Regions from separate parts of the Homo sapiens genome. Here all the other regions are linked to region 4. The links come from fine-mapping of genetic effects on gene expression. A gene starts in region 4. Each other region holds a variant in brackets. All regions are shown on one strand. Distances are from middle to middle.

Region 1 (8,108 bases), 750 kb after region 4:
ATTTATTTATTTTTGAGACACAGTCTCACTCTATTGCCCAGGCTGGAGTACAGTAGCATGATCATGGCTCACTGCAGCCTCAACCTCCCAGGCTGAAGCAATCCTCCCACTTCAGCCTCTCCAATAGCAGGGACCACAGGCATGTGCCACCATACCTAGTCCTTTTGTAATTTTTTTGTAGAGATTGGGGTCTTACTATGTTGCCCAGGCTGGTCTTGAACTCCTGGCCTCAAGCAGTCCTCCCGTATTGGCCACCCAAGTAATGAGATTATAGGTTTGAGCCATCATCCCCCACCCGCACTAGCCTTATTAATACAATGCAGCACTTATCTAAAAATATACAAAACAGTCATTGTATTACCTGGTCCAGTGTTTCAATATTGTTTCCAGTCTGTGAAGTTCCTTAGACATTTTATTGGTGTTACTTAGCCAGCACTCTCCAAGTTGATTTAGTTGGCTTTCTAGATCTGAGCAGCTGATGGATATCAGAAGTCGTTTCCCATCATCTAATACTTGATATAATTTGGGCTGGTATTCATTAAGGCTAGATTTTAAATGCTAAAATATTGAAATTATTGAGTTAAAAGTTTGGATATGCAATTTTTGTCTTTAAGAATTATAATTTCTCTGGTACCTACAATGTTCCCATTACCTGTTATTCAAACTTAAACTATACTCACTCAAGTAACATTGAAAACTTTAAGATGTTTCATCTATATTTAAGTATAGACAGTCTCCTTTTGTTGTTTATTATTTTTTTTTTGGTAATGACTTTAGGTGGATTTAAAACTGTCAAATTATTATTTCAAGAATTGTGTGGCATCAGCATAAACTACAGAAAATGCTTGGTGGAGGCTGAATTTTCAAAAAGAGCTCTCAGTAAAAAAAAGAAAAAAGAAAGACTTTTAATAATGTCCAACTATAAATAACAGAAACATTATCTCCTTTCAATGTCAATAACTTGAAAGAAAAGTAAAAGTACTAATAAAATAATTGATCACAAGTTTGTTTACATTCTGTTAAAACTATTGGTAAGTTTCTAAAGGCAATGTGGCGGCTTGTAACACCAACCTGGTAGAGTGTTATGCGGTCAATAAGCCTGTCCTCGTTCTCCTCCACCAGACCCACGCTTGGGATGCTGCTTTCCACCACCTCCAGCTGTCTGCTGAGCTCCTGCTGGTCCTCATCCAGATGGGACCACGTCTAGAAACACAACATGAGTCTGTGAGCTAAAAAAACCCTCATTAGCGAAAGACATTCTTCCTTGGGTGCAAAATACGTGCCTGACAGTCTCTCCTTAAAGTTATATCAGAGATGTTTGCGTTGGGCCTTGCTTTGGGAAGCAAAAGATGGCTTTAAAGCAAGTAATCAAATGGTGACCCTTGAAAGCATTGTGAATGGGCTCTGGAATCTGCCACTAAGCCCCTTTACAACTGTGAGTAAGCTACTAAACTCTGTACCTCTTTTCCATACGTTACAATGGGGATAATAATAGCTATCTTCTCCATCATGAGGATTAAATGGAATAATGTATGCAGTGTACCTTCTATTGGGTATGCACTTTTTTTTTTTTTTTTTTTTTTAGATAGGCTCTCACTCTGTTGCCCAGGCTGGAGTACAGTGGCACAATCATGGATCACTGTAGACTCGAACTCCTGGGCTCAAGGGATCCTCCTGCTTCATCCTCCCAAGTAGCTGGGACCACAGGCGCATTCCACCACACCAGGCTAACTTAAAAAAAATTTTTTTGTAGAGATGGGGGTCTCACTATGTTGTCCAGCCTGGTCTCAAACTCCTGGTATCAAAAGATCCTCCTGCTTCAGCCTCCCAAAGTGCTGGGATTACAGGCATGAGCCACCACATCTAGCCCAGGTATGTATGGTTTTATTCTTTACCACAGTAAGGATTTAAGTCAAAAGGATGGGGATGTTTGCCTTTCATGTAACGAGTAAACAAATCAATTACATTTGCATATGAAACATATCTATAAATATGAATATATAGTTTATATATTCTGTTAAAGAAAAATACCACATCACTTATTCCTAAGTTCAGACTTTTATTTTATTTAAAACTGGAAAACACTTTTTAAAAGATCAGTTGAAGTCTTTTCCAGTAATTTACGCTGTGGGTCAGCAGTTTCTCAGTGTGAGTATGCTCACTTCACTGTGCAGTTGGAGTGGCAACAGGGCACAGTAGTAGAAACCCATGCTTTTTAAATACACTTACCAAATATCTATTGCCTGGTATTTTCAATGCCTAGGGATCTGGGAGTAAATAAAACAGACACAAACCCAGGCCTTCTAGTGAGGAGAGACAGGCAATCAATAATAAACAATAAACCAAAAACAAACAATAAGTTGTATGGTATAATAGAGTTCTTGTGCTGTGGAAGAATAAAACAGAACTGGGTAGGGGTGGGAGGGAGTGCCCAGGTGTGTGCCTGGTGGGGCTACAATTTAAATGGTGTCATCAGGTAAGTTTCATGGAGAAACACACATTTCAGGTCGTGAAGTCAGACAGATGAAGGTGTGATCTCTGACTTTGCCACCAATTAACCACGTGTCTTGGCAAACAGTTGCTCCCAGACTCATTGCTGAAACAGGGATTCAAAATTCTATCTCAAAGGGTTATGATAAAGATGAGATGGATTCATGTAAATGTAAGAAGTCTTGCCAGGGACCTGACATGTCAATAAAGTGTAACTATTATTACAGAGATTTCAAACGTTAAAGGTAGATGTCTCTCCAAAATATAGGGAATTCCACATCAGGGAATTCCACATCTGGGATTTGGGGGTTAGCTACCTATGAAAATGTTGGCCCAGGGAAAATCCCATTTAGAAAAAATGCAAATACGACCTGCAGGCAACCCAGTTAAGATCAGTAATATTGTGGGAGTGGGTGGGGAAGTCCACAAAGGGGAGAGAGATTATAATCTCTAAAACTTCCAAGGGAAAGAGGAAGAATGAGAAAGCAGGAACAGTTTAGGGCAACTGGTACAGTTACTGAAGAAAGAAAGGGGACTGTTCCATCAATAATGTCCTACATTTCCACGGGGTTCTATAGCTTGCCAGTAGCCACCACTGAGCACTACTCTGTTCCAAGAGCAACCGCATTTGGGACAGAAAAAAATATTTCTACATTTTACTTTCATTTTTTTTTTTTTTTGAGACAGAGTTTTACTCCCGTTGCCCAGGCTGGAGTGCAATGGTGTGACCTTGGCTCACTGCAACCACTGCCTCCCGGTTCAAGTGATTCTCCTGCCTCAGCCTCCCAAGTAGCTGAGATTACAGGCACCCACGACGACGTCCGGCTAATTTTTTGTATTTTTAGTAGAGACGGGGTTTCAACATGTTGGTTTGTTTCATCATGTTGGCCAGGCTGGTCTCGAACTCCTGACCTCAAGTGATCCACCCGCCTCAGCCTCCCAAAGTGCTGGGATGACAGGTGTGAGCCACTGCACCTGGCCTATTTCTACATTTTTCATACTCTTAAGTAAGCTATCAGTCTGAATATCAAAACCCCAAATATCTTCATGCATAGTCTGAAGTCAGTGTGTATCTATCTTACTTTCGACATGGCACAGCAGATAGCCCAATGTACACAGAAAACACAGGGGGAATAAGCAACACAGAACCATAGGAAAAGTGCAGTCCTGAGCCCGAGAG[C/T]GCAGCTAGTTCTGAGGTTATGTGAGGCAAACTGCATGGATAGATACATCTTGCATTAAAGGTCTATTTTGCAGCAGGAAGTTTGCAGCACAGAAGATATGACATCAATGGTCTCACCTCTAGAATGTACTCCAGCTCCACACCCCTCTTGTGAGCCCGTTTCAGTACAGCAGAAGCCTGAGCCATCAGCTCTGTATGGAACTGGGTTTCCTTTTGGACTGCAAAGCTGATTATCTTTCTGAAGAGTGTTTCAGTCAAGATCATATGAGATTCCAGGCCCTGAAAGTATTCCTGCAATTTTTCAGGAAGAAAGAAGTCAGCAACTCATTCATATATTATGTTAGAATCAAAATTGGTTTAGGGCCGGGTGCGGTGGCTCACGCCTGTAATCCCAACAGTTGGGGAGGCTGAAGTGGGTGGATTACCTGAGGTCAAGAGCTCAAGACCAGCCTGGCCAATGTGGTGGAATCCGTTTCTACTAAAAATACAAAAATCAGCCGGGCATGCTGGTGTGTGCCTGTAATCCTAGCTACTCAGGAGGCTGAGGCACAAGAATCGCTTGAACCTGGGAGGCCGAGGTTGCAGTGAGCCAAGATCGTGCCACTGCACTCCAGCCTGGGTGGAGAGGAGTTCACACCAACCCAGCGCTGGAGCTGAGTAGACAGCTCTGCATTTCTAGAGGAGAGTGAGGAGTGCGCGAGGAGTCCTTGACCAGGACAAGGGAGGGCAGAGGGAGCAACTAGGACCAGGTGTACAAAGGGGCAAAAAGGAAACACAGGGAAAGGTAGAGGTAAGAACGAAGGTGGGCTCCTTTGAAGACAGGCTCTGAGTTTTTCTTTGCCAGGACAGTTGGAGCTCTGGTTGGAGACTCCATCTCAAAACAAACAAACAAACAAACAAACAAAAAACATTGCTTTCCTTCCTCCATGGCTGGGCTTGGGCTCTACTTTCTGAACTTCTAGGATATTTGCGTGCTCATTCCATGTTGTCAAGCACAGCTTTATATGCACTGATTGATATTATAAATTTGCTTTCCTTGTATTATACCTACACATAACATAACTGTAGGCCTTGCGCCATCCTACTAATGTTTTTGAAATGTTACCGTTTGTGTATAATAGACCCTGGAGAATGGAGATTGAGCTTATCTCATTTCCTGTTCCCAGTACCATGATAAAATGGAAGAGCTGGCAACTGATAATGACAGTTAACATTAATTATGTGCTTACTGTTTGCTAGGCACTCCATAAATACTTTATCTGACTCATCTCATCCTCCTAACAACTCTATAACTCTATGAGATAGGCAGTTTTGTTTCCAGTTTTACAGATGAGAACACTGAGTCCCCCCAGTCTATGTAGCTTGCCCAAGGTCACATAGCTAGTCACGGCAGAGCTTGGGGTTCAAACCCAAGGGCAGTGTGGCTTTATCTGTGCTTCTCACCAGCACTGCAGAACTCTCCCTCAGAAAATGGGCTGGTGAGTAGAAGCTAGAATCATTATTTTTAACCAACAATTACCAAATCAGAGTCCTAAAGTTGGAGGAGACTTTGAAGTTCATCTAGCCCAACATGCAATGAAAGCTGAGATTCCTTTTACAAGCCCATCTCCCCTAAAAGCCTTGGCTGGACTTCTCATGGCCAGAAGGGCTGTCTGCTCAATGGCAGCTTACTCCTTTTATAGTTCTTTTTCTATTGAGGTTTATTTCCCTGTTATTTATACTCATTGATCCTAGTTTCCCCTCTGGAATAACTCAGAATGATCTTTTATTGCTATGGTCAACAACGTGAGAAACACCAGCTGTGGACTTTAAAGCAATGTTTTCAAAGCCAAATGATAAGGTTTTAATAAATCATGAAGCTTTGGACAAAAACGTCTGGGAAAAAATAGGAACGACAATTTGAAAAAGACAAAAAAAACCCACCTTTACAAGCCACCAGAGAGCTACACAATGGTAGAAGATTTTAAACTTCTATAACCCAATGGGATTTTTTTAGTTTCCCTACAGGAAATTCCCATAGTCTAGAAGGCTGGGTTTCTGGACTGGCAAAATTGCTTTCGTAATCATTGCCAATAATGCAAGAGCTGTGTGTGTGTGTGTGTGTGTGTGTGTGTGAAATACGCATTCTTCTACCATGGAGTAGTGTCCAACCTGAGCTTGGCTGTGGCACACAATGATGGAGTGATTTCGGGCCTCCCAAGTTTGATTACATAGTAAACGGCCTTGCTGTTCCCAGGGAGAAAGTCTGAAGTCTACAGCAACTAGAGGAGCATATGTGTAAGGGTCAGAGGATCTAAACAATGCATGTAAAAGACACCAACCCAACCCTGGATCTGAGTAGTCAGCTCTGCATTTCTAGAGGAGAGCAAGGAGTGAGCGAGGAGTCCTTGACGAGGACAAGGGAGGGCAAAGAGGGTAACTGGGACCAGGTGGACAAATGGGCAAAAAGGAAACACAGGGAAAAGTGGAGTTAAGAATGAAGATGGGCTCCTTTGAAGAGAGGCTCTGAGTTTTCCTTTGATTTTAGCTCATCTAGGGAGAAAGCCTGGCTAATACTAGTGAGGAACTGATAGGTAAAATTACAGGTAAGTTGGTTTTCTTTTTTAATTTACAACATTATAGAAACATATCCCCTATAATTTCTCTGTGCTACTGAAAGCCAGTGGGTTTGAATATAAATTTTTTGGCCATTTTTAAAGAATAACTTATACAAGTAAGAACTCATAAAAGACTGAGAATATTAGGTTTTACTAAATATATATCAGGGTTTGAGAGCATGCTTTCCAATTACATTTTCTCTCTATCACTCTTTTTTGTTATGTACCTTATGTTTGTCAAGTAGTTGCTGGATTTCCTCTTTGGAAGACACGATGATTTTCTGGTCTCCTGCCATCTTCTCCTGACCAGTTTCTAGCAGGTCAGCCAGATCTTGTAGGGCCCTCTCATACTGACTCTTGAGTGTAAGGTTCTGATTCAGACCACTCCTCCGGGAGCCAATGATCATCATCAGCTCATCATACATGTCCTAAGAAGCAGAGACCACAAGACTCACTCTCAATTCATATTCTGGCAACCCTCTAAAAGCATATGAACTATGAACGCACCAAGCCCGAGACCCAACCAAGAAAATGCCTTCAGGGATGTGCCTCCTGGAAACGCTCTACCTGTAGGCCATCTGCTTGTCTTTCTATGAGCCTTACTTTGAAAACATGTTTCACAAAGAAATGACCTTTGGACCTCTATTCTCATGCCTATGATATTCGTTGTGACTTTACTGTGTCTTGATACCTGGTGGTTCAAGTTCTTTCATTAATCTTATTTGGTATTCTTATCTTGCTGTTTTAAATTTTATTTTATTTCTAACGGACAATAAAGCACAACGGAGAAACTGAAAAAAAACTGAATTCATAAAAATGTAAGTATGAAGTCACTGAAAGGATAAAATAAATATTCAATAAATAATGTGGAAACAACTCAACTCTTTGAAGAAAAATAAAGTCTTATCTCATGCCACATATCAAAATGCAATTTAGATTGATTACAAAATAAAAATTTAATAAGTTAAAATATGAAAGGAAATAAAGATATGTCTATAAAAAATAAGGTTAATATTTTAAGATTTTAAAGGACATGTAAAAGTGTTTCCTAGAAATGATACATGAGGTAGATTTGACAACTGTTTTCTCAGGATATCAATAGTTTATGATAAGATGTGGGGTAAAACTGTTGAAAAACTGTCCATGTGGCTGAGGGACATGTCATAGAAAATGTAATTCCCATTTTTATAGTATTCTCAACATTCATATAATTTCAGAGCAATTGAATATAATATCCTTAACATTTTCCTGCTAAATAACAATCATATTTGGGACTACCCCTCAAACAAAGAGCTAGAGAAATAGGGGAGTTTAATGTGAGCAGAAAGAGTTTCAAACTTAAGAAGGCAATATTTTTGCCAAATGTGGTGGAGTATATAACTATTTAAACTGGAAAGACATTTTAGGAGATGATGACACACCAAACACAAAATTTATTTGAGGCATACGGACCTGATTAACATATCACATTAAGGTTTAGCAGGCCAAAATGGTTCAATCTGGAAGAGTTCAATTTTAATGCCTATTTACGGCAATGACATTTGACTCTTACACCTGATGCTTAAGTGCTGTCGGAAAACTGTCTAAAAAAGTACAAAGTGGGGGAGGTGGGCTTATGATATTATGAAATGTTAGATAAAGGACAGATACAGTTAAAATAAAAATGTTCTTTTGTTTATAAGGTCTATTTTATTTTCTCAAAGAAAGAACTCACAACCCTGTACTGGACTGAGGTTACCAGTTCTCAATAGTTCTGCACACAGAGAAAATCTAACATGTGTGTCTGTGTGACTGTACACAGTTGTACACAATTTTTTCTTGATCGAACATAACTGCTTGCC
Region 2 (8,108 bases), 39 kb before region 4:
TTAGTTTATTAATTCATACTGCAAACGAACTCAGTTCTTATCATGTGCCAGGTATTGTCCTAGTTGCTGACAATACAGCTGAAAATAAAATAGACAAAAATCCTATCTTTTGAATCTTTTGAACCTTGCATTGGGAGTGACAGACAAAACGAGGTAAATCAGTAAAATACGTGAGACACAAAGCTAAAGGAAAAAAATAAGAGGAAAGGGCAGATTTTTGTGTCTTCCTTCCAGAATGGAAGCTCCCTGAGGATACGGATTTGTGTTTTTTCCTATTATATCTCCTGACAATAGCGCCCAGCACATAGTAGGCATTCGATCGAATTTTTAAAATGAAATACAAGGCAGTTACTCAGTTCCCGGGCACATTTCAACTTTTAGAGAACAATTACACCAATTAAGAAAATCGATTACAGCTAGGCTACGATTCGAGAGCTAAGTGGCGCTCATCTTTGGGAGTATGCCGTTCAATTCCTCAAACTCAAAATTATTTTATCGATTTCTACAGTTACCGCGGTGCACTGGCTCAAAAAAAGGGTTCATTAATTGAGTGCTTTTTACTCCCAGCTAAGCTGACCAAAGATCACGGTAAGAGGCAAAGGGTCACAGCCGCACTGGCGTAACCCGTAACTGTACACGTTCCGGGCGGCCAGGAGCCAGGGCGCAGACCTCCAAGCCGGACCACTCGAGCTGCTAAAGAAAAGGCAATACACTAACCTCTCCGCCGGAAGAGAAGAAGGAAGCGCCAGGGACGCACGCTTCCTCGGCAGGACTGCAGGGAAAGAGCCGCACCCCCAGCCTCTCACTACTGCAGCCAACCCATCTCCTGGAAGGGCGCTCCCGCCCACCCCCGCTACTGCGCAGCCGCACTGAACTCTGGTCCCACTTAGCGGGAGAAACTCGGGCCACGTGACTGTCTGACCACGTGAGCCGCGTCGCCGCGACCTCTTCCGCTCCCTAGGCCCTGGGACCTCCCGGTCCCTTGCCTGCTTCCGGCTTTCGCTCGCTTCCATATCCGCTCCTCTAGTCGCCCTCCGCTGGCCCCGCCTTCGTCCCCGGAAGATTGGGTCTTCTGGCGAGCCACTGTTTGCCGTTTGATCGGGCACCAAATAAAGTTTCTTTATTCAAAAGCACTTTTTTTTTAAAGCCACACCACCCCCATTCTCAGCTCCTCCTTCGCGGCGGTACCGCCTCTGTTTCTGCGGCGATTGAACAGCCGAGCTTTGCGGCCGGGATCGCGGAAAGTGATGGCTGTCGTCCCGGCGTCTCTCTCAGGACAGGACGTGGGGTTAGTCTAGCTTTTCTCCTCCCCACTTTTGCGGAAAGCCGGGCCTCGCCGGGAGCCTGTGGGGACTAAGCGGAGGGCGCCCGCTCCCCGGTGGGCTGCGTTCGAGTCCCGCCGCCGGGCGCGGCTTTCCGGGGCGCCTTTGCGGGTTTCGCGGACTGGCTCGGAGGCGAAGGGAGGCGGCCCCGGGGAGGGAGCCTGCCCGCGGCGGCTGCTCGTAAGGATCAGGACAGGGGTCAGCTTCGCGGTCTGTTCCTGGCGGTCACTTTTTATTTATTCACTTTAATAGACGCGCTTTGGGGGCGTTAAAATTCTGCGTAAGAGTTGGGGATCTCAGCGCTATTAAGAAACGGGTTTCTCCCTGTTGTTGATCAAATCGTAATCTCACAGTAAGAACTGTCTAGTTTTTTGCTTTATAGTCGTCACGCTACTGATTCTTGGGTAAAGTTGTGGGTGACCGTGCAAATAACATCCATTTGCATAAATCGAATGGCCAAATTTATATTTGAAATTTGTCCTTACTTCAAAATATTGCAAAAGACGAGAACACTTTGAAGAAAATAAACCTGGGCAGAAAGTAGGTTGAGGCCAACAAAGTGGCGCCAATGGCCCCAAATTGAGGCAGTCACTGTTTCAGGTCATGCAAGTATAGAGAGTATCTCCTTCAATTTTGCGCCCTAGGGCTTCTGGCCTCACTCCAGTCCTGGCCAGAGACTTTGTTCCAGAGGTGCAGGAAATGTAGTAGTTAGGAAAACAGTAATACTTTCCAATTAAAGTAAAATCTCAAAAAAGGACTTACTATACCTACTGCCTGGGAAAATTCAAGTGACAGTTGATTTAATGTTCCTGCTCACCCTCTGAGGTATTAGTGATTTCTTTTATTAATGATTTTTAAAAATTAAATTCTGATCAACGTAGTTATTATGCGCATTAAAACCTAATCACTGTTTTGGGTGGTACTGAAAGCACCACAGAGTCGGAAAGTGTGTGCAGTTTTTTTCTTAAAGTTCTATAGCTATCATTTGAGGAAACCTTTTGAAGAAATACCCAAGTTACAATCTAGTAATTTAACAATTGTCTCCTGTGATCTGGAGATAAAAACACTAGTCAGCTAAGCTCTGTGCTCTATATTTAAAACTGCACAGAATTTCTCCACCAAATAAAGCTTTTTTTCTACCTGTATCATGTATTTCCTTAGAATGATATAAAATGATAATCTGTAAATCTTGGGTTTTGTATGAATAAAATCAAGAATATCTTTAATTTTTTAATGCAGGTATAAGTTTTTCTTCATCTCCAGCTTGCTTCATTCTTGAACACTTCTATAAAATCTCTGATTTTTTGAGTGGGAAGAGACAGTAGCACGCCTTCATTTGCTTAGGGGCAGAATAGGATGGAAGGAGTCCATTGTGCAGATAGAGAAGGCAGAGAAGGGGAAAATTTTTGAAAATAATTAAAATTGACTTAGAAAATAGACAGAATGGAGAGAAACAGGCTTAAAAGTACCTTTAATTCTTTATGTTGTTCAAGCACATTAGACCCTTTAGGTGGTTTTAGATGCATTGCTTCATTCATCTTTCTAAGCAGGTGACTTAGCAGATAGTAGACCTGGGACAAGAGCCTGTTTGATTTCTAAGCTAATCCATTCCCTATCCTATCACTTTGCTAAGCGAGTTTCTGATTTAGGAAAATAAAAGCAATAGAATAGGAAAGATAAGAATGATTAAACAGACTCCATGGGAGAATCTGGGATTAGAGGCACCAAGACAGTTTGGCTTCCATGACATACCAGCGAATTTTCCAGGTTTTCTTATGTCTTAATATAGTAATCATACAATACTTGTCTATCTTTTAATAGTTGTATGAGGAGTTTAATATACATGAAGTGTTCCAGAAACTAAAAGATAGCCAGTCTTCTAGTATTGATGCTGCTAAGTTATATATTGCATGTGACTCTTTTCTAGATCATTTGCATATCTTACAATTAAAGACAGAATACCACAGATCTTAACTAAGGTTATTGATACATTGCATCGACATAAAAGTGAATTTTTTGAGAAACACGGAGAGGTAAGAATTGTTTTAACTTTTAATTTTTTGTTAATTTCTCAACAGAAACATAATAAATAGTTCTTGAAGGTATCAATTTTCCTTTAAATGTAAAAATCAATAGATGGGCCAAGTATTTATTTGTTTTTAAG[G/A]TAATACATTGAAATGAAGATAGAACAGCCAATCTTCAATTTAGAAAATGATTGTGTTCCAATAATTAATTCTGTCAGTTATTTAGACTTCAGAATGTATTTTCTAATATATGCAATGTTGTAATTGGTGACTGGGCAACAGACTTGCAATTGACTTAGTCAAGTGACTAAGCAATTGAGTTGCTTAGAAGAGCTTTTTAAATTTCAAGTTTAATTTGAGTTGCAGTATTTATATTACTAATTTGAGATCTTGAGTCCTGGAAGTTCAAGCTGCTATGCAAAGCTCAGTGATATGAATTATAATTGATTGACACATTGTACTGATTCAAGTTGGGACTCATTAGCATTCAGTGCAGAATAGGACTTTAGAAATCACTTTGTCCATTCAATTAATGGATGAGGAAAAATCCAAATAACTATGTTATTGAAGGGGTGGGTTGCCCCTCCACACCTGTGGGTGTTTCTCGTAAGGTGGAACGAGAGACTTGGAAAAGAAAAAGACACAGAGACAAAGTATAGAGAAAGAAATAAGGGGACCTGGGGAACCAGCGTTCAGCATATGGAGGATCCCGCCAGCCTCTGAGTTCCCTTAGTATTTATTGATCATTCGTGGGTGTTTCTCCGAGAGAGGGATGTGTCAGGGTCACAAGACAATTGTGGGGAGAGGGTCAGCAGACAAACACGTGAACAAAGGTCTTTGCATCATAGACAATGTAAAGGATTAAGTGCTGTGCTTTTAGATATGCATACACATAAACATCTCAATGCTTTACAAAGCAGTATTGCTGCCCGCATGTCCCACCTCCAGCCCTAAGGCGGTTTTTCCCTATCTCAGTAGATGGAACATACAATTGGGTTTTATACCGAGACATTCCATTGCCCAGGGACGGGCAGGAGACAGATGCCTTCCTCTTGTCTCAACTGCAAGAGGCATGCCTTCCTCTTACACTAATCCTCCTCAGCACAGACCCTTTACGGGTGTCGGGCTGGGGGACGGTCAGGTCTTTCCCTTCCCACGAGGCCATATTTCAGACTATCACATGGGGAGAAACCTTGGACAATACCTGGCTTTCCTAGGCAGAGGTCCCTGCGGCCTTCCGGCCTTCCGCAGTTTTTGTGCCCCTGGGTACTTGAGATTAGGGAGTGGTGATGACTCTCAAGGAGTATGCTGCCTTCAAGCATCTGTTTAACAAAGCACATCTTGCACCGCCCTTAATCCATTTAACTCCGAGTTGACACAGCACATGTTTCAGAGAGCACGGGGTTGGGGGTAAGGTTATAGATTAACAGAATCTCAAGGCAGAAGAATTTTTCTTAGTACAGAACAAAATGGAGTCTCCTATGTCTACTTCTTTCTACACAGACACAGTAACAATCTGATCTCTCTTGCTTTTCCCCACATGTTATGTTAGACATAGGTCTTTAAACTTGTAGGTTCAGTAATCTTTCTATTACACAATAGACTGTAAAAGAGCATACATATACCAGTACATTTTTTTTGAGAGTTGAAAACAAAAATTTAGAGAAATGGTTGGTGATCTTTTCTCCTTGGCCAAATTGAAATGGAGCAAGATAACACACATGCAGTTTGAGTGTAATGTTCTACTTCTTTCAACTTCTTTTATATTGTCTTGTTTAAAACTAATCCTGGCATAACACAGGGATTACCTGTTGTTCCTTGTTGCTAAAATCCGGCTTAATTTAGACACTGACAATTATATTGCTGAATGGTTTTAATGTTTATCACATAAACATAATTTTGGTAACTGACATATCTTTATCACACAAGTATAATTTAGCCAAATTTGGATAGTTCACTTTAGTATTTGGTCATATACGCAAGCAAATTACCATAATACTTTTGTTTTTCTTGTTGTTGTTTTTTGAGACAGGGTCTTGTTCTGTCTACTAGGCAGAGTGCAGTGGTGCAGTCATAGCTCACTGCAGCCTCAAACTCCTAGATTCCAGCAATTCTCCCAGTTCAGCATCCTAAAGTGCTGGCATTACAGGCGTGAGCCACTGTGCCTGGCCCCATAATGCTTTTGTAATTTCAGTTTTTTCGGCCAGAGTGATCTAAAATGTAGTAATTAATGAAGTCCTAGTATATTGCTACTTGGCCTGTATGCCCGTAATCACCAGGTGACTGAAGGCAGAGTTTATTGTCTCTCCAGCCCTCCCCCATTTCACACTCTACTGAGCACAGAACAAGATGTAAATTGACACAGATAAAGTCTGCTTTTGGTAGCCTTTCTGTCCCTTTTTCATGCCTCTGTTATACCTATGGCCACTCTCCTTGGGCCTCATGTGTTCTAGCTTCCTAAGCCCCCACCTATAGCAGGGCCAGGCTTATCTCCGAAGGAGCCATGCCACACAGTTTTCTATCTTCCCCCACCTCAGCGGTCAAACGTCCGTGCCCTTAGACTACCTGGTTTGGCAGATGTGTGTCTCTTGGAGACAGGACCAGGCTTTATTCATCTTTCTCTGGCCCTGAGGTTAGTGTCAGGCACATACAGGGTTCAGTAAATGTTTGAATTCAATTCAAGTAAGTGAACAAAGTGGCAGTGACATCACTATTAATCCATTAGCCTTTTTAGGTATATGCTTCTGTAAAAGGGTGCCTGACACCCTGTAAAACCTCAGTTGTTGGAATTTATAGTTAAAGAGTTGAAGTTTAAGACTTTAGGGAAGAGATTTGGAGGAGGGGGAGTTCCTCTCAAAACAGTCAGCTACAACTTCTTTTCTTCTATTTCTGAACCTGCAGAATCTCGAAAGCTTCAATCTTTTTTTCTAGCAGCAAAATAAATTGTACTTGGAACAAAAGAAAGATTGGAGAGATGTTTATATTGAGAAAATTACAGATCTGAAAGTAGGGACTAAATATCAACATGATAAAAATGATCTTATAAAAATACTCAGGCTTGATGTTTATTCTCTACATTTTATTATATACGTGTCTTATTAGGCTTACATTTTCTTTTTTTTTAATGGAGCAGGAATCTTGCTAATGTAAAACCAAGGTGTGAAGTCATTTTCACTTCATTCTGATCCCATTACATTTGTCCCCACTCCAATTGGCCTGTTATGTGAGATAATATTGTAGTGCCTTGTTTGTCAGCATATGTCATCTCTCACCTAGCTAGAACTTGGTGGAAAACAAGTTAAAAAAAATTTGAGCTACCAAAAGAAACCTCAGAAAGCCCACAGTTTCTTTTCTAGTGGTGTCAATGGTGAAAGAAGAATATGTATGGAAGCATGAAAGACATGGAAAATCTGGCAGGGGTTCCTTTCCCTCTGTGGTAATGGTCATCCCACCGAAGATACAGAAAGGCCAGAACTTAGGTAGATAAGGCATGATTATGTTCATATGAGATCTGTGTGTGTTTTTTGATTTTCAGTTTAAGAGTTCTAAATGTAATGTTTAAAGAAATAAAATGTAGTTTTGAACATTTTTCTTTTCTTCTTAAGTCTGTAAAAATATGTTACCCTAGAGGAATTGCACAGACACACACACACACACAATTTATTTTTCTTGTATTTTTGCAGGAAGGCGTGGAAGCTGAAAAGAAAGCTATCTCTCTCCTTTCTAAATTACGGAATGAATTGCAAACAGATAAACCATTTATCCCCTTGGTTGAGAAATTTGTTGATACTGATATATGGAATCAGTACCTAGAATATCAACAGAGTCTTTTAAATGAAAGTGATGGAAAATCAAGATGGTTCTACTCACCGTGGTTGTTGGTAGAATGTTACATGTATCGAAGAATTCATGAAGCAATTATCCAGAGGTACGTGTGTAATCATCAACTATCAAATGTTTAGATAATTTATACTTTTTCTGAAATTGTAAAAGGATAAGTTTAAAAATAAGCACCAGTGGAAGCTTGAATTTGGTTGAGTTTAGCAAATCTTAATAGCATTGTTGGACATTTCTACAAATGTTACTGATGGACATTTCTACAAATGTTACTGATGGACATTTCTATAGCTGTTACCAATTTAACAGATTCTTGGCAATTATAATCTACTTGCCTAGAATAGACATAAGAGTAAATATCTAAAGTACGAATTGGCCAGGCCCTGAGGTTCATGCTTGTAATCCCAGCACTTTGGGAGGCTGAGGTGGGCAGATTGCTTGAGGTCAGGAGTTCGAGACCAGCCTGGCCAGCATAACGAAACCCGTCTCTACTAAAAATAAAAAAATTAGCGAGGCATGGTGGCACGGGCCTGTAATCCCAGGTACCTGGGAGGCTGAGGAATGGGAATTGCTTGAACCTGGGAGGCAGAGGTTGCAGTGTGCCAAAATTGCACCACTGCACTGCAGCCTGAGCACCGGAGTGAAACTCTGTCTCAATAAAATAGATAAATAAAGCGTGAATTAATTAAAGATTCCAACAAAGACTTCTAGAATAAAAGAAGTTTTGCTTATTGAGTAAAAAATGTAAATTTGAAATAGTTACATTTATATAAATAAGGATGGGACAAAGTAAGCATATGTTTTGTTTATTGAAATAGATAATAAACGTTACAACTTACTTGGTTTAAGGAGTCATGAGAACAGTGAATCATACTATTGTATTATAGTCTTAATCTTTCATCTTTTTTTAAAAAGGCTAGTTTAG
Region 3 (8,108 bases), 85 kb after region 4:
TTGGCCAGGATGGTCTCGATCTCTTGACCTTGTGATCCACCCGCCTCGGCCTCCCAAAGTGCTGGGATTATAGGCGTGAGCCACCGTGCCCGGCTGCCAAGTGCATTTTCTATCTCTTTGTGGAGATAAAATGTGGAGTGCTCATTGGCTGTCCTCCACTCTAATGTGTAGAGGTCTCTGCGAGTAACTTAGTTTTTCTTGTGACTCAGTTTACATGGAGGTACTTGAGAAAGAAAATGATTTATAGGTTTGGAAATAAGCTTCATTAAGTCATTTCCTTAAATGGTAACAGATATGCAGACGATTTCCAGCTCATGAAAATTTAATTTAAAAAATTTTCAACTTGACGATGGTGTGAAAGTGATACACATTCAGTGGAAACCACACTTTGAGTGTGCATGCAGCCATCCTGTTCTTCACTTTCAGTATTCAACAAATTACATGAGACTTTCAATACTTTATTATAAAATAGGCTTTGTGTTAGATGATTTTGCCCAAATATAGGCCAATGTAAGTGTTCTGAGCACTTTTAAGGTAGGGTAGGCGAAGCCATGATATTCGGTAGGTTAGGTATATTAAATGCATTTCTGACTTAAGGAACTTTCAACTAACACGTCTTTGTTGGGACACAACCTCACCATTCGTCGAGGAGCATCTGTACTTCAATAGCTAATTTTTTTTTTTTTTGCCATTTCATTTTATTGCTTTCCACTTCTATATTTTCAAGTAGTTTCTTAAAACTACTTTAATCCCAAACAAGGCGCATAATTATCAGCATGATGTATATGTTTATTTTCTAAAGCCAAATGATGTAAATTGGTTAAGCTGGGTATGCTTTCTCCCACTCCCCATAAAAATTAGAATGATTCAGAGTCTTTTTAGTGCCTTTGTCTGCCATTCCTACCCTGTAATTTTTTTCAATAGCTGCCCTCCCTATTTAAAAGCCTGAAATCAAGCATATAGCTGGTGTCTTGTGTGACTCATCTTCACGTAAAATCAGGAGAAAATGGATTTCATATATTGTCTTAGAAATGTTTCTAAAGAATGGGAGCTTTACAAATTGATGAATCTGTTTGTTGAGGAGGCTGCATGTCCCTGCCAGCTGCCATGGCTACGCACACAGTCAGTGGCTGAGTAATTCTGATGTGAAGGCTCCACGGCGGGTTCAGGCTCAGCTTGGCAGATTCTCCGCTTCAGGCCGGCTCCTGCTTCCCGAACGTTGCTTGTCTTGTTTACCCCTGTGCTATCCATTTTTCCCCTCCTGTGTTTGCAATTCTCAGTAGAATTCAGGACACCACCCACACTTTTACAGCACGTCATTTCTACTTGTTCCTTGCATATCTGCTTCTGGCAAGATCTAATCTTCTTTTTAGAAGCTTTACTATATCTTAGAGCAAGGTTTTCCATCCTCAGAACTATTGACATTTTGGACTGGATAATTTTTTGCTCTGGGGGCCAGTCCTGTGCATTGCAGGATTTTGAGCGGCGTCCTTGGCCTCTACCCGCTAGTAGCACTCCCCTTCCCAGTTTGTGACAACCACAGATGTCTTTAGAGACTGCCTAATGTCCGCCGGGGGTCAAAATTGCCCCCAGTTGAAAACCACTGTCTTAGAGGAATGTTCTACTGCCAGGTTCCCACGAATTCTAAATGAGTATTTAGATGTTACTTAGCCTTGGAATTTCAGGACACCATAGCAGTTGTTTATGAAATAATGACTTCTTGCACAATGACAGAAAGTTACGACATTTTCAGATTTTACTTTAGAATTTTGAGGCAATTTTGTTTTCTTCTTCACCTCTATCTGGACATTTTTCCTGTTCTGCTTTAGGTACACCTAAGGCTTTATTTCCTTCCTTGAGGTGTTTGCTGGTCCAGGGGCTCTGTGGGAGCTGTGGGGACCCCCCCCGATGCTATAAAGCAAGGGTCTCCAACCCTCTGGCTGCGCACCCGCACCAGTGCCTGGCCTAGTAGGAAATGGGCTGCACAGGAGGAGGTGAGCGGTGGGCGAGCGAGCATTGCTTCCTGAGTTCACCTCCTGTCAGATCAGCAGCGGCATTAGATTCTCATAGGAACGTGAACGCTATTGCGAACTGTGCATGCGAGGGATCTAGGTTGCGTGCATCTTATGAGAATCTAATCCCTGATGATCTGAGGTGAAACAGTTTCATTCTGACACAAAAATTGTCATCCACGAAACCAGTCTCTGGTGACAAAAAGGCTGGTGATCTCTGCTGTGAAGGACTGGAGATGTGCTTCACAGCCCCCTCCTCCCCATTCTGATCTCAGAGCCCGATTATCATTCTCCTGCTCTGTTCTTAACCCTGCCACCTACTAAAGTGAGCATCTTCCCAGAAGCACCAGCACACTTCCATTTGGGACGTTTCATTATCCAAAATTATGTTGTGCGGTTGCTCCGGGCTACAGAGGCATCTGAGAGAGCGAACAGATGGAAGTTTCAGCTTTTCCAGCCTCTCCAGTTATATGAGTTTCCTGGGGCTGCTACGACAAAGTACCGCAACTGGGCGGCTTAAATAACAGAAAGTTCTTGCCTCACAGTTCTGGAGATGAGAAGTCTGGCATCAAGGTGTCAGTAGGGTTGGTTCCTTCTGAGGGCTGTGAGGGAGAGTCTGTCCCATGCCTCACTCCTAGCTTCTGCTGGCCTCAGGCATTGCATTCTTTGTTGTAGGGATAGTGTTCTTCCTGTGTGTTCACATTGCCTTCCTCTATGCATGTCGGTCTTCGTGTCCAAATTTCCCCTCTTATAAGGACCTCAGTCATCTGGGATTAGGGTCCACCTTAGGGACCTCGTTTTCACTTCATCACCACTCTAAAGACCCGATCTCCAAAGAAAGGCACATTCTGAGGTACTGGGGGGCTTCAACATATCTTTTTTGAGGGGGACCTAATTTAACTCAAAACAAAAGTTGAGATGAACAGAGGAGGTGGGATAGAGTTAGCCAGTCAACAGTGCTGGTCACACAAGCCGACAGAAGGGAAGGAGGATTTGGTCGACACTTTCTAGTACCTGATAACTTACATATTCCCCAAGTGCAAATTATAGCTTGAGTAATTGGAAAAGAGTTTATGTCTAAAAGGAACTGGACTTTAAGTGACCCAAATGGCTCTTTCTTCAGTGTAGAACTTTTTGGCTTCTATTTGGTTTAATTTTAGGACAAAA[T/A]TGTCTCTCTGGTGAAATCAATGCATAGTTGTCCCTGGGGAGTGAATTAAATCTTTTAGGGCATTATGACTTTACTTCTAAAAACCATGCAGCTTATTCTTTAACTATATTGTGCTTTTTGTTTCAAAAAAAAAGCACAAACAAAAAAATATCTTTTTTGTTTAAAGGTATGTATTCTTCACCCCTCACCCTCCACTGCCCACCTCTAGTGTTGAAATATCTGGTGCATTTTGTCCCATAGAATATCAGGTATATGTTAAGAAATGATCCTAAGAAAAAGAAAAGAAAAGAAAGAAAGGCTTATTTATTGTTTAGACTTTTTGGTGTGAAAAACAGCACAAGTTTACGGTTTTGGTGGAGCACATATGTTCACTCAGGCACTGGCATTTGATGTTCCCAAGAATAAGTCAGAATGGAAAGTTAATTTATTTGAATTAATTTATCTAAATTTAGTTAGAAAAAAACTTAGTGGTGTCATGTGCACTGACACCTAAATAAGCTTCTGAAGCTACGTTCTGTGATCTGATAGAGTGCAGGAGGGCTCTCAGCTGTTTTCTTCTCTCTGGACACAAGAATCTTGGCATGGCAGGTATCCCCTGCAAATTTCAGCGATCTACGTATTAGTGGTTTTAAAGTCTCACTTCGCTGAGTCTCAAGGCTCTGTAGAGCACCCTCAGGTCCAGATGGGGTGAAGATGCAAGAGAGACCTTCTTGCCTTTGATTCAAACACATTTGTCCCTTATTTGTTCTTCCTAGAAAGACTTCTAGTTGAGAGAAAGACTATGCTGAAAATAGTTTGAGAAACATGACATAGGACAATTCCTGGAGGGTTCTTTAGCTCCTCATGGCGACAGCATAGGATTGACAGAACCAGTACACTGGAGCAGTAACCCTGATGACGGAAATGGACACGATGTGTTGAACTTCAATATGGTGTGAAATACTGTAAATTATCTAAATCAGCTCATTGAGTCTTCATAGCAAAGTCTACGAATTTCAGAGAGATTAGTTACTTGCTTCAGTTAACCTGCTAGTAAGTGGTACAGGGGAAATTGAAACCAGGGCTATCTGACTCCAAAGCCTCCGTCCTGCACTCTGGTCTACGTCAGATGCTTACATCTTCCTTTAGGGTCAGTATCACTCCCTTAGTCTAACTTACTGCAGTTACTCTGGGCATCAGCTTCAGAATGGAGACCATACTGATTGATGTCTACAGAAGGCTTGCTTTTTTCCAGTAAATTCGGTGGTGTGCTGACTATGGCTAACTGATCACACAGTTCTCCCTCTCTCCGCTTGAGGTTTATTGAATCAATTTTCTCTTTGGTTTCATTCTCTCCGCTATGTCATTTGTGGTATAGGAGACGTTGAAGGGTCTTCAGGTAGAAATACTCACTTCCTGTTTGCAGTCCAACGTGAAACCACATCTCCTGATGTGCTATACTCCTAATAATGCAAATCAGTCCCTTGGGAGGCAGCATCTTGTGGACATTTTTCTGTAGATTACATTATTTGTTATACCAAGATAAACACTGTTTCTCTTGCGTTAAGATCAGATTTATCTGCTATATTAGTAAGTTATACTTACTAATATAGCTATGAATGTATCAGTAGATTTTTTATTATTGGTAAGCAGGAAAGGTAGGAAATAAGAAATGAGGTTTCTCAGAGCTTCATGTTCTGGGATGACACTAAAAATTTCCTTGGTAAATGTAATTCCTTGGATGTGGCTCTGAATAGCTTACCATCAAATATCTAATTTCAAGCACACACACAGAAGTGTTAAATTAATTGAATGTCTGGAAGCTTGAGAGCCATGGAAGCACAGGATTGAAGAGTTTAGAGCTCAGGTGGTCTAACCTTCCTCATGTAGCACTTCAATCTGCATTGCAACATTCTTAATTGGTATAAGCATACCTCAGAGACCACTGCGACAAAGCAAGTGTCACAATAAAGTGAGTCACACAATTTTTTTTGGTTTCTCAGTGCATATAAAAGTTATGTTTATACTAGACTATGTAGTCTATTAAGTGTGCAATAACCCTATATCTAAAAAACAATATAGATACTTTAATTAAAAATACTTTATTGCTAAGAAGTGCTAACAATCATCTTAGCCTTCAGCAAGTCATAATCTTTTTGCTGGTGGAGGGTTTTGCTGTAATGTTGATGGTTACTGCTGATCGGAGTGATGGTTCCTGAAGGTTGGGTGGCTGTGGCAATTTCTTAAAATAAGACAACAACGTAGTTGAAAACAACAATTGACTCTTTTTTTTCTCAAAAGATTTCTCTGTAGCATGTGAGCTATTTGATAGCGCTTTACCAACAGCAGAACTTCTTTCTAAATTGAGGTCAATCCTCTCAAACCTTGCTGCTTTTTTGTCAGCTAAATTTATGTTATATTCTAAATGTTTATTGTCATTTCAACAATGTTCAAGCATCTTCACTAGGAGTAAATTTCATCTCAATAATTTTCTTTGCTCATCCATGAGAAGCAACTCTTCATCCATTCAAGTTTGATCATGAGGTTACAGCAATTCAGTCACATCTTTAGGCTCCATTTCTAATTCTAGTTCTCTTGCTATTTCCACCACATCTGCAGTTACTTCCTCCACTGAAGTCCTGAACCCCTCAGAATCATCTCATAGATGACACCTATGATGTTATTTTGACCTCCTCTTATGATTTATGAATGTCCTTAATGGTATCAAGAGTAGTGAATCCTTTCCAGAAGGTTTTCAATTTACTTTGCCCAGATCCATCAGAGGAATCACTCTCTATGGCAGCTGTAGCCTTATGAAGTATATTTCTTACATAATAAGACTTTAAAGTCAGAATTATTCCTTGATCCATGGGCTGCAGAATGAATGCTGTGTTAATAGCTGTGAAGACAACATTCATCTCTTTGTACATCTCCATCAGAGTTCGTGGGTGACCAGGTATGTTGTCAATGAGCAGTAATATTTTGAAAGGAATCTTTTACTGAGCCATAGGTCTCAACTGTAGGCTTGAAATATTCAGTAAAACTTGATGTGAACAGATGTGCTGTCATCCAGCTTTGCTGTTCCATTTCTAGAGCACAGTCAGAATAGATTTAGCATATTTCTTAAGGGGCCTAGGGTCTTCAGAATGGTAAATGAGCACTGGCCTCAACTTCAAGTCACCAGCTGCATTAACCTCTAACAAGAGAGTCAGCCTGTTCTCTGAAGCTTTGAAGGCAGGCATTGACTTCTCCTCTTTAGCTATGAAAGTCCTAAATGGCAACCTCTTCCCATAGAAGGCTGATTTGCCTACATTGAAAGTCTGTTGTTTGGTGTCGCCACCTTCATCAATGATCTTAGCTAGATCTTGTGGATAACTTACCCCAGCTTCTACATCAGCACTTACTGCTTTATCTTGTACTTTTATGTTATGGAGATGGCTTCTTTCCTTAAATCTCATGAATCAATCTCTACTAGTTTCAAACTTTTCTTCTGCAGCTTCTTCACCTCTCTTAGGCTTCATAGATTTAAGGAGAGTTAGGGCCTTGCTTTGGATTAGGCTTTGGCTTAAGGGAATGTTATGGCTGGTTTGATGTCTATTCAGACCACTCAAACTTTCTCCATATCAGCAATAAGGCTGTTTTTTTTCTTATCATTTGTGTGTGTCTTAGTCCTTTTGTGTTGCCATAAAAGAATACCTGAGGCTGAGTAATTGATAAAGAAAAGAGGTTTATTTGGCTCATGGTTCTGCAGGCTATACAAGAAGCACAGTGCCATCTACTTCTGGCAATGAACCTCAAGAAACTTTCACTCATGGCAGAAGATGAAGGGGAGCAGGCATCACATGGCCAGAGAGAAAGAAAGGGAGAGAGAGGAGGAGGTGCCAGGCTCTTTTCAACAACCAGAGCTCATGGGAACTAAGAGTGAGCAGTCACTCAATTCTGCAAGAATGACACCAAGTCATTCATGAAGGATCTGCTTCCATGAACCAAACATCTCCCACTAGGCCCACCTCCAACTGTGAGGATCAAATTTTAACATGCGATTTAGAGAGGACAAATATCCACACTGTATCAGTGTGTTTACTGGAGTAGCACTTTTTTTTTTTTTTTTTTTTTTTTGAGACGGAGTCTTGCTCTGTCACCCAGGCTGGAGTGCAATGGCGCAATCTCAGCTCACTGCAACCTCTGCCTCCCGGGTTAAAGTGATTCTCCTGTCTCAGCCTCCTGAGTAGCTGGGACTACAGGCGCCTGCCACCACGCCTGGCTAATTTTTGTATTTTTAGTAGAGATGGGGTTTCACCATACTGGTCAGCCTAGTCTTGAACTCCTGACCTCAGGTGATCCACCCACCTTGGCCTCCCAAAGTGCTGGGATTACAGGCGTGAGCCACCGTGCCTGGCCTGGAGTAGCACTTTTAATTTCCTTCAAGAACGCTTCCTTTCTATTCCCAGCTTGGCTAATTGGAGTAAGAGGCCCAATTTTTGGCCGATCTCAGATTTCAACATGCCTTTCTTACTAAGCTTAGTCATTTCCATCTTTTGAGTTAAAATGAGAGAAGTGCGACTCTTCGCTTTTTTTTATTTGAGATGGAAGTCTCATTCTGTCACCTAGGCTGGAGTGCAGTGGCGTGATGTTGGCTCACTACAACCTCTGCCTCCCAGGTTCAGGTGATTCTCCTGCCTCAGCCTTCCAAGTAGCTGGGACTACAGGCATGAGCCATCACGTCCAGCTAATTTTTGTATTTTCAGTAGAGATGGGGTTTCGCCATGTTGGCCAGGCTGGTCTTGAACTCCTGACTTCAGGTGATCCACCCAGTTTGGCCTCCCAAAGTGCTGGGATTACAGGCGTGAGCCACTATGCCCAGCCTGACTCTTCCTTTCATTTGAAAACTTAGAGGCCATTGTAAGGTTATTAACTGGCTTAATGTGAATATTGTTGTGTCTCAGGAA
Region 4 (8,108 bases):
CATCATTTCCCAAAGGCCCCACTTCTTAGCACTATCACAATGGGTATTAGGTTCCAACAAATGAATTTGGGGTGGCGAGCACCAACATTTAGATCACAGCAAGTGTTTAGGAAAATACTAAAATTAAGCCTACTCTTTTAAACAACCTTTAGACAATTAAAATGTCATAGGAGTGATTTCAGTGACAAGTTTTCAATCGGAAGTCAAAAGCTCCAAAAGTTATCATATTACAAATGTTCCCGTGAGAAACATGTACATCTGTAAAACAAACAAGCAAACAAGCAAAAGGAGGAAACCAGAGTTCTAAACTTACGACACCACAAGAAAACTCCAAAACAGAGGTCTGTACGGAGGTATTGTGGGCCACACGGTGCTGCCCACACACGGGGTTTTGTGAGAGGTCTGGACTGGAACTTGTTTGTACATTTTTTCTTCCCTCCTTTGCTTAAACTGTTATCAGACCTAGAGACCGCCCCCCTCCAACTCCCAGCCTGAAATGTTCTACCACCATGGTCCCAGCTAGCCCAAATCGTCATCTCCTCCAAGGTCCAGACCTCGGGGTCCCCCCAGCTCAACTTCTTTGACGTCATCACATCATCAGATGCTGCTTGAAGAGTCACTTGGCTCATGTCTTGATATCCCAGAAATCTCAAAGGCATCTGGGGAGGGCTGAGCCAAGTACTTTTTCTGCCTCCAGTTACCACAAAATCACATTGTTTTATACAGAGAAAAATCTGTTTCATGCTGATTTTTAAAGACTGCAAATTTATATCTTCTATTCTCATGAATAAGAGCTACAAGGTTGACCAAACTGAGCAGAATTAGGCTTTATGACATGGGATTCTTAAACAATTGGATTAGAGTTAATGGAGAAGGATTTCCATCTGGTTCTCTTCCAGGTGTCTTGAGTTTTCATCAATTTTGTGTTTCCTCTGGCAGTGTTGGTTCATTGAAAATTTAACAAGTTTGGCCGGGCGCAGTGGCTCACGCCTGTAATCCCAGCACTTTGAGAGGTGGAGGCAGGTAGATCACCTGAGGTCAGGACTTCGAGACCAGCTTGGCCAACATGGTGAAACCCTGTCTCTACTAAAAATACAAAATTAGCAGGGTGTGGTGGCACATGCCTGTAATCCCAGCTAGTCGGGAGGCTGAGGCAGGAGAATCGCTTGAATCCAGGGGGCGGAGTTTGCAGTGAGCAGAGATCGCTCCATTGAACTCCAGCCTAGGTAACGAGCGAAACTCTGTTTGAAAAAAAAAAAGAAAAGAAAATTTGACAAGTTTGTAGTGGTTCTACTGCAAGGAAAAACTACAACTTAAAAATGTGTTTACTCCAAATTGTACTATTAATAGGAGATTTCTGAAAGCCTAAGTTTTCATTAAGAACTTTTTCTTTAACGGTGCATCAAGTGAAAGCCTTGAGATGATTCTGGATTAGATATATGGCAAAGTTACCGTGAGCTCAAAAGCCATTGTCCAGATGAAGAAATCCTCAGGGTCAATATGAATGCACATAGGATGACTGATGGAATCCAAGAAAAGCTGCCATAGCTCTGATTTTGCCTTTTTGTGTTGTCTTTAGAGACATGCTCTTGCTCTGTCGCCCAGGCTGGAGTGCAGTGGTGATCATAGCTCACTGCAGCCTTGACCTCCTGGGCTCAAAGCTATCCTCCTGCTTTAGCTTTCTTTTTTTTTTTTTTTTTTAAGATGGCGTCTTGCTCTGTCACCCAGGCTGGAGTACAGTGGTGCTATCTCAGCTTATTGCAACCTCCGCCTCCCAGGTTCAAGCGATTCTCCTGCCTCAGCCTCCCAAGTAGCTGGGATTACAGGCATGTGCCACCACACCTAGCTAATTTTTGTATTTTTAGTAGAGACAGGGTTTCACTATGTTGGCCAGGCTGGTCTCGAACTCCTGACCTCAGGTGATCCACCTGCCTCAGCCTCCCAAAGTACTGGGATTATAGGTATGAGCCACCTCACCTGGCCCCGCCTTAGCCTTCTGAGTAGCTAGGACTACAGGTGTGCACCACCATGCCTGGCTAATTTAAAAAAAAAAAAAAAAAACTTGTAGAGATAGAGTCTTGCTGTATTGCCCAGGCTGGTCTCAAACTCCTGGCCTCAAGCAATCCTCCCACCTGTTTGATTTCATGTGTCTCAAACAGCATAGGAGTCTACTAAAGGCTTTTTTCTTTTTTTTTTTTTTTTTTTTTGAGGCAGATTCTTGCTCTGTCACCCAGGCTGGAGTGCAGTGGCTCAATCTTGGCTCACTGCAACCTCTGCCTCCCAGGTTCAAATGATTTTCCCTGCCTCAGCCTCTCAAATAGCTGTATTACAGGTGTCCGCTACCACGCCCGGCTAATTTTTGTATTTTTAGTAGAGACAGGGTTTCACCTTCTTGGCCAGGCTGGTCTCAAACTCCTGACCTCAAGTGATCCACCCATCTCAGCCTCCCAAAAGTGTTGGGATTACAGGAGTGAGCCACCGCGCCTGGCCCACCAAAAGCTTTAAAGTGAGGTGAATGCAGATTCCATTTTCAGATTCTGCTACAAATTGTGGGACCTTAAACAAGTTACTCATCTTCTCTGTGCTTTAGTGTTATGATCTGGAGCCTGATCTTCATTCTACCACTTACCCTGTACATCTTGGAAATTTTATTTTATTTCCCTGTGACTGTTGCCTTGTCTTGCAGATGGATTATTCTAACATCCACTTCATAATCTTGTTTCATTTAAGGAGATTGATCATACGTGGGAAGCACTTAGAACAGTGCATGGACGAGCACGAGTATTTCATAATGAGCAGCTGTGGCTGTTACTAACACTGGTATTACTAGTACCCGTACTTCCAGGCAGGGTTGTTGAGAAGGTGAAATGAAAGAACGCACACCAGGGCAGGCTACATAATTTGTGGACCCCGGTACAGAATGAAAATGCAGGACACCTTGTTCAAAACTTCCTAAAAACGTCAAGACTGGGACAGCTGAGTATTAAACCAAGCGCAGGACCCGGACCTGCACAGGTTGCACGCTCGCAGACACATTTGCACACAGTGTGTGCTAAATAAATGCTCCGTTCACCCTTGTGAAGTTTCCTATGCCTCACTCGCGCCAGCACCGTTCACAGTGCCCACTGGCTGTATTTATCGCTGACATAAGGATGAGGCCTGGAATTGCATTCACTGCAGAGTCCCACCGGGAGGACCGACCGTTATCCCCGCCGACTCCCCCCAGGTCGCCCTGGCAGTTTCGGCCGCTCAGTTGCAGGCCCTCGCCACGGAGGCCACGCTCGGGGGTTCGGGGTCCACCCCGGCCTCCTGCGGCCGGGCCACCCTACTCGCGCGCAGCCGCGCGCCGCCGCGTCCCCGCGGTGTTTACCCGTTGCCCGAGGAGACACCCGCGCCACCCGCCGGCTCCCGGCGCCGCCGCTTCCTCAGGGCCGGTTCCGGGTCCGAGCGCGCCCCCGGGCTCGGGTCGTCATGAGCCTGGACTGCACCAGCCATATCGCGCTGGGTGCCGCTTCGCCAGCGCCCGAGGTACGGTCCCAGCCGCCGGCCGCGCGCGGGGGTGGCCCTGGGGATAGACGACCCAGGAGGGGCCGAGGCGCCCCTGATTTGCACCCTTTTCCTCCCGGAGGCGTGGGCAGAATCAGAGCAGCTCTGTGCCCGCGAGGGCTGTGGCCTGGGACTGCCAGGGCGCTGATTTCAGGAGGGGATGGGCAGGACCGGAGTTTGCGGAGCGCGTCTGAATTTTAGGTTGTGCCACTCTGCTTCTCTGACCATTTAAACCGGTGACATTCGAAAGACTGTGGCCGGGCAGTTCCTCCCCGCCACCCCTGGGAGCAAAGAATTCCTTCATTTAACTTTCCCTGCTTAGCTACTGAAGTGTGCTTCGGAGCAATTTCTGGAAAATCTGATGTGGCAGGAGGAGGGCCAGCCCGGAGTAGAGTCACCGGCCCTTTCGTTGCGAAGTAATCCAGAAACGTTGGTAATTCAGTTGTTCCTGAATGCATCTACTCATTTACTCCCAGGAGTTACTTAGGTACTGGGGACTTTCAGGTATTAGATGTACCAATGCGCGCGCGCACACACACACGAACATGCGCGCATACACAGACGCTCGTGCACACACGCGAACAGGCACATACGCGAACAAACACGGGCGCGCACACACACGAACACGGGCATATGCATACTTGGGCGCACAAGAAGATCTGGCTGGCTCAGTCTGGGTTAAGAATCCCCCTTTGGCCTTGGCATCGGGGCCCACCGGGTATCGTGTGTATTGGGAGTAGTTGCCAGAGATGGGGGAATTGTGTTCAGCTCAACTGCTAACCGCAAGTAACTCACCCAATTAGTAAATGATGGAGGATTTTTCTTTCTTTCCAAAGTTTTGGACTTTTCCTACCACGCTGTGTACTGACCATAGATATCCCTGGGGGATGTAGTGGATTCAAAACATGAGTTGGATTCTCCAACGTGCCATCGGAATTCTTCTAATATTCAGCAGCTTTGATTGTTGTTTTACATCTGACCTGTATTTAGATTTCTCTGATTCCTGGAATATTTGTGGAAAATAAGTACCACTGTGTGCAAATAAAACTATTTTTTCTTTCTTTCTAACTCAGAGGCCAGTTACTAGATGTTTTTTCTTTCATCTGACATTTTCATATTTGACTTTATTAATTTTTATCCCAATGTGGTGTCTTAACCATACATAAGTATGTGGTATTTTTATATTATTAATATATATTTTTTTTGGTGAGCCCATTGAGAGTAAATTACAGCCATCATGATTCTTTCTTTCTCTCTCCTTTTTTTCTCTTGTTCTCTCCCTCCCTCCTTTTCTTTCTTTCTTCTTTTTTTCAGACAGGGTCTCACCTTGTTACCCAGGCTCGAGTGCAGTGGCACGATCTCGGCTCGCCGCCGCCTTGACACCCCTGGGTTCAAACGATCCTCTCACCTCAGCCTCCAGAGTAGCTGGGACTCCAGGCATGCCATGATGCCTGGATAATTTTTGTGTTCTTTGCAGAGGCAGAGTTTTATCGTGTTGCTCAGGCTGGTCTCAAACTCCTGAGCTCAAGCGATCCACCTGCCTCAGACTCCCAAAGTGCTGGGATTACAGAGATGCACTACCATGCCTGGTCCCCTATGACCTTTCATCTGTAAATACTCTGGTGTGTTATCTCCTATGAATAAGGGCATTCTCTAACGAACATACAATGATCAAAATCGGGATGTTTAGCATTGTGACAATAATATTATCTAATATACACGACCTACTAAAACTTTGCCACTTGTCCCAATTATGCCATTTATTGCCAATTTTTTTTCCATCTCAGGATCACACACTGTATTTAGTTATGTCTCCAGTCTCTTCAAACCTGGAACAGTTCTTCACATTTTTTTTGTTTGTTTTTTTGTTTGTTTGTTTTTGTCTTTGATGATACTGACATTTTTGCAGAGTCCAGGTCATTCGTTTTATAGAGTAAGTTTCTCTGATTGTCCTTCGTGATTAGATTTTTGGGTAGGAATAACATAAGAGATGTTATGTCTCAGAGTATCACATCAGGAGGGGCATATATCAGCTTATCCCATTATTGGTGATGTCCCCAGCTGGTGGCCTCTGCCAGATTTTTCCCCTTTAGCAATAAATAAGAAATCATATTAGTTGAGTAATAATATTGATTCGGATAGAAATTTTTAGCATAAGTCACTGCCTACAAAAGGAAAATGTCCATTAAGCATGAGATTTTAATTGGCTTAAAATAACTAAATTTTATTGAGAACAAAAGTAGCTGCAGAAAAGGCAGCATTTATTACAATTAAATGTTCAGTTTGCAAAATACTTTATCTGAGATCATCTTATAATTTAGATAGGCGGGGCAGAAATTTCTCACTATATAAGATGAGGAAATAGCTTACTGGATTAGAAATGATGGAGCAGGGACTTGTATCTTTCTTTCAAAAGCTTTGTACTTTTCCTACCATGCCAGACTGAAAACATTAAATTACAAAGCAGTGATAGTCTGCAACTTTCTGGAAAAGTAAAATACTGTAGAGACTGAGATACTAGTTTTAGACTCAAAACTAGATTCAAACAATCCTGATTATACCACTCATCTGTGACATCTTGGTCAAAACAATTAATGTATCAGCATTTTAGTTTTTTCTTCTAAAACATGGAATCATAAAACTTATCGCATAACGTAGTTTGAGGATTTCACGGTTAATAAATGTAAGGCACTCAAGAGAGTGTCTGACAGAATAAGTGCATATCAATATTAGCTATCGTTATTCTTTGTAACTTTTGGAATTTGCTTTGGTGTCAACACCACTGCACCTACTCCTACCATCATCACCAATGCTTCCATCAGTACTTCAGCCACCATCTCAATAGTCAGTGTTTTGAGAATCTGTAGGAGGGACAGAGGATACAAAAATGAATTGGAGATTGACCCTGCTCATAATGAAGAATTGACAGTTTACAATCCACTTTGGGAGGCAGAGGTGTGTGGATCGCTTGAGCCCAAGAGTTTAAGACCAGACTGGGCAACATGGCAAAACCCCGTCTCTACAAAAAACACAAAAAGTACCCAGGCATGGCCTGTAGTCCTAGCTACTTGGGAGGCTGAGGTGGGAGGATCACTTGAGCCCAGGAAGTTGAGGCTGTTGTGAGCCTTGATCGCACTACTGCACCCCAGCCTGGGCAACAGAACAAGACCCTGGCTCAAAAATAAAATAAAAATTAAAAAAGAGTTTACAATCAAGAAAAACAGACACATAAAAAGATTACTCCTTCATCAACACTAAAATTTAATGCTGCACTCTTCTCAAGTTGGATTTACCTATAATGCGATCACCAGCACAGCCTTACTGGGATGGAAAATGTGACAAATACTAACAGCAATATTATGAGAATTGAAGTGGAGCAGCCCAAACATGAAGGAAAGAGATATGCTTTGGGGGAAGTTTACAAACATAGCTTTCAGTAAGACTGCATAACTTTGTCATGCATTTGAAATAACGCTACCCAGTGAAAATGTGCTGGGTGCGGTGGCTCATGCTTGTAATCCCAGCACTTTGGGAGGCTGAGGCGGGAGGCTCACTTGAGGTCAGGAGTTCGAGACCATCCTGGCTAACATGGTAAAACCCCGTCTGTACTAAAAATACAAAAAGTAGCCAGGCTTGGTGGCAGGTGCCTGTAATCCCAGTTACTGGGGAGGCTGAGGCAGGAGAATTGCCTGAACCTGGGAGGCAGAGGTTGCAGTGAGCCAAGATTGTGCCACTGAACACACCATCTCAAAAAAAAAAAAAAAAAAAAAAAGAAAAGTGACCTAATTATAAAATAGGATCACCAGTCAGCAAAAAGCTGTAGCAATAGTTCTGTGGAAAGTGCTTGGATTCCAAATCCTCTGACACCAGTGAGAAGCCACAGACATATGGTGGCTTGTAGGCTCTCTTGCTGTGGCAGTGTTTTCACATACCTGGAAAACCTAGATCAAAGTTACAGCTCCAGTAGATACCATTGTTGGGAATTTGAGCATCTCTTTCCTTTCTGTAAAACAAGGGTTAATTAGAATAACTATCAACAGAATTGTTATGAGAAGCAAATGTAAATAGCAACACACTCTATCAGCAGCTATAGTTCCTCAAAACAAAGGACTTAGAGCTGGTCATAGCTAACTATAAAGGAGTTAAAGTCTGTTTTCCTTTTTCTTCCCATCATTTCTACTTTTAAAAACCTCATATAAAATACATATAACATAAAATTTGCCATCTTAACTTACAAATGTACAGTTTAGTGGCATTAAGTACATTCACATTGTTGTGCAACTGTTGCCACAAGCCATCTTCAAACCTTTGTTCATCTTGCAAAACTGAAACTCTGTACTCATTAAGCAATAACTTCACATTTCCTCCTCCCCACAGCTCCTAACAACCACCATTCTACTTTCTTTCTTTATGAATTTGACTATTCTAGGCATGCTGTATAAGTGGAATCAGACTGTATTTAACTATTCTAGGCATGCTGTATAAGTGGAATCAGACTGTATTTGACTATTCTAGGCACGGTGTATAAGTGGAATCAGACTGTATTTCAGTATTCTAGGCAC

The links.
Region 1: its variant is fine-mapped to the expression of CCDC170 in testis (GTEx, PIP above 0.99).
Region 2: its variant is fine-mapped to the expression of CCDC170 in whole blood (INTERVAL, PIP 0.96).
Region 3: its variant is fine-mapped to the expression of CCDC170 in whole blood (INTERVAL, PIP above 0.99).

What each region holds. Positions count from the first base shown.
Region 1 is chr6:152,235,746-152,243,853 of GRCh38, forward strand. It overlaps SYNE1 (spectrin repeat containing nuclear envelope protein 1), which reads right to left. Exons shown (of 146, transcript NM_182961.4): 107 at 6,495-6,695; 108 at 3,788-3,961; 109 at 1,072-1,203; 110 at 362-558. Among named protein-coding and RNA genes, the nearest start is that of SYNE1-AS1, 140 kb to the right of the region's middle. The variant C/T (reference allele first, on the strand shown) is at 3,671.
Region 2 is chr6:151,451,299-151,459,406 of GRCh38, forward strand. It overlaps RMND1 (required for meiotic nuclear division 1 homolog), which reads right to left and starts at 828. Exons shown (of 12, transcript NM_017909.4): 1 at 718-828. It overlaps DCPH1 (damage control phosphatase 1), which reads left to right and starts at 1,168. Exons shown (of 5, transcript NM_024573.3): 1 at 1,168-1,288; 2 at 3,250-3,355; 3 at 7,030-7,274. The coding sequence starts at 1,248. RefSeq lists enhancers at 556-605, 796-1,245, 4,104-4,861 and silencers at 1,406-1,525, 4,496-4,790. The variant G/A (reference allele first, on the strand shown) is at 3,487.
Region 3 is chr6:151,575,733-151,583,840 of GRCh38, forward strand. All of the region lies in intron 6 of CCDC170 (coiled-coil domain containing 170), which reads left to right. Among named protein-coding and RNA genes, the nearest start is that of CCDC170, 86 kb to the left of the region's middle. The variant T/A (reference allele first, on the strand shown) is at 3,180.
Region 4 is chr6:151,490,658-151,498,765 of GRCh38, forward strand. CCDC170 (coiled-coil domain containing 170) reads left to right here and starts at 3,360. Exons shown (of 11, transcript NM_025059.4): 1 at 3,360-3,528. The coding sequence starts at 3,472. It overlaps LOC124901436 (a long non-coding RNA gene), which reads right to left and starts at 7,549. Exons shown (of 2, transcript XR_007059817.1): 1 at 7,479-7,549; 2 at 5,750-6,407.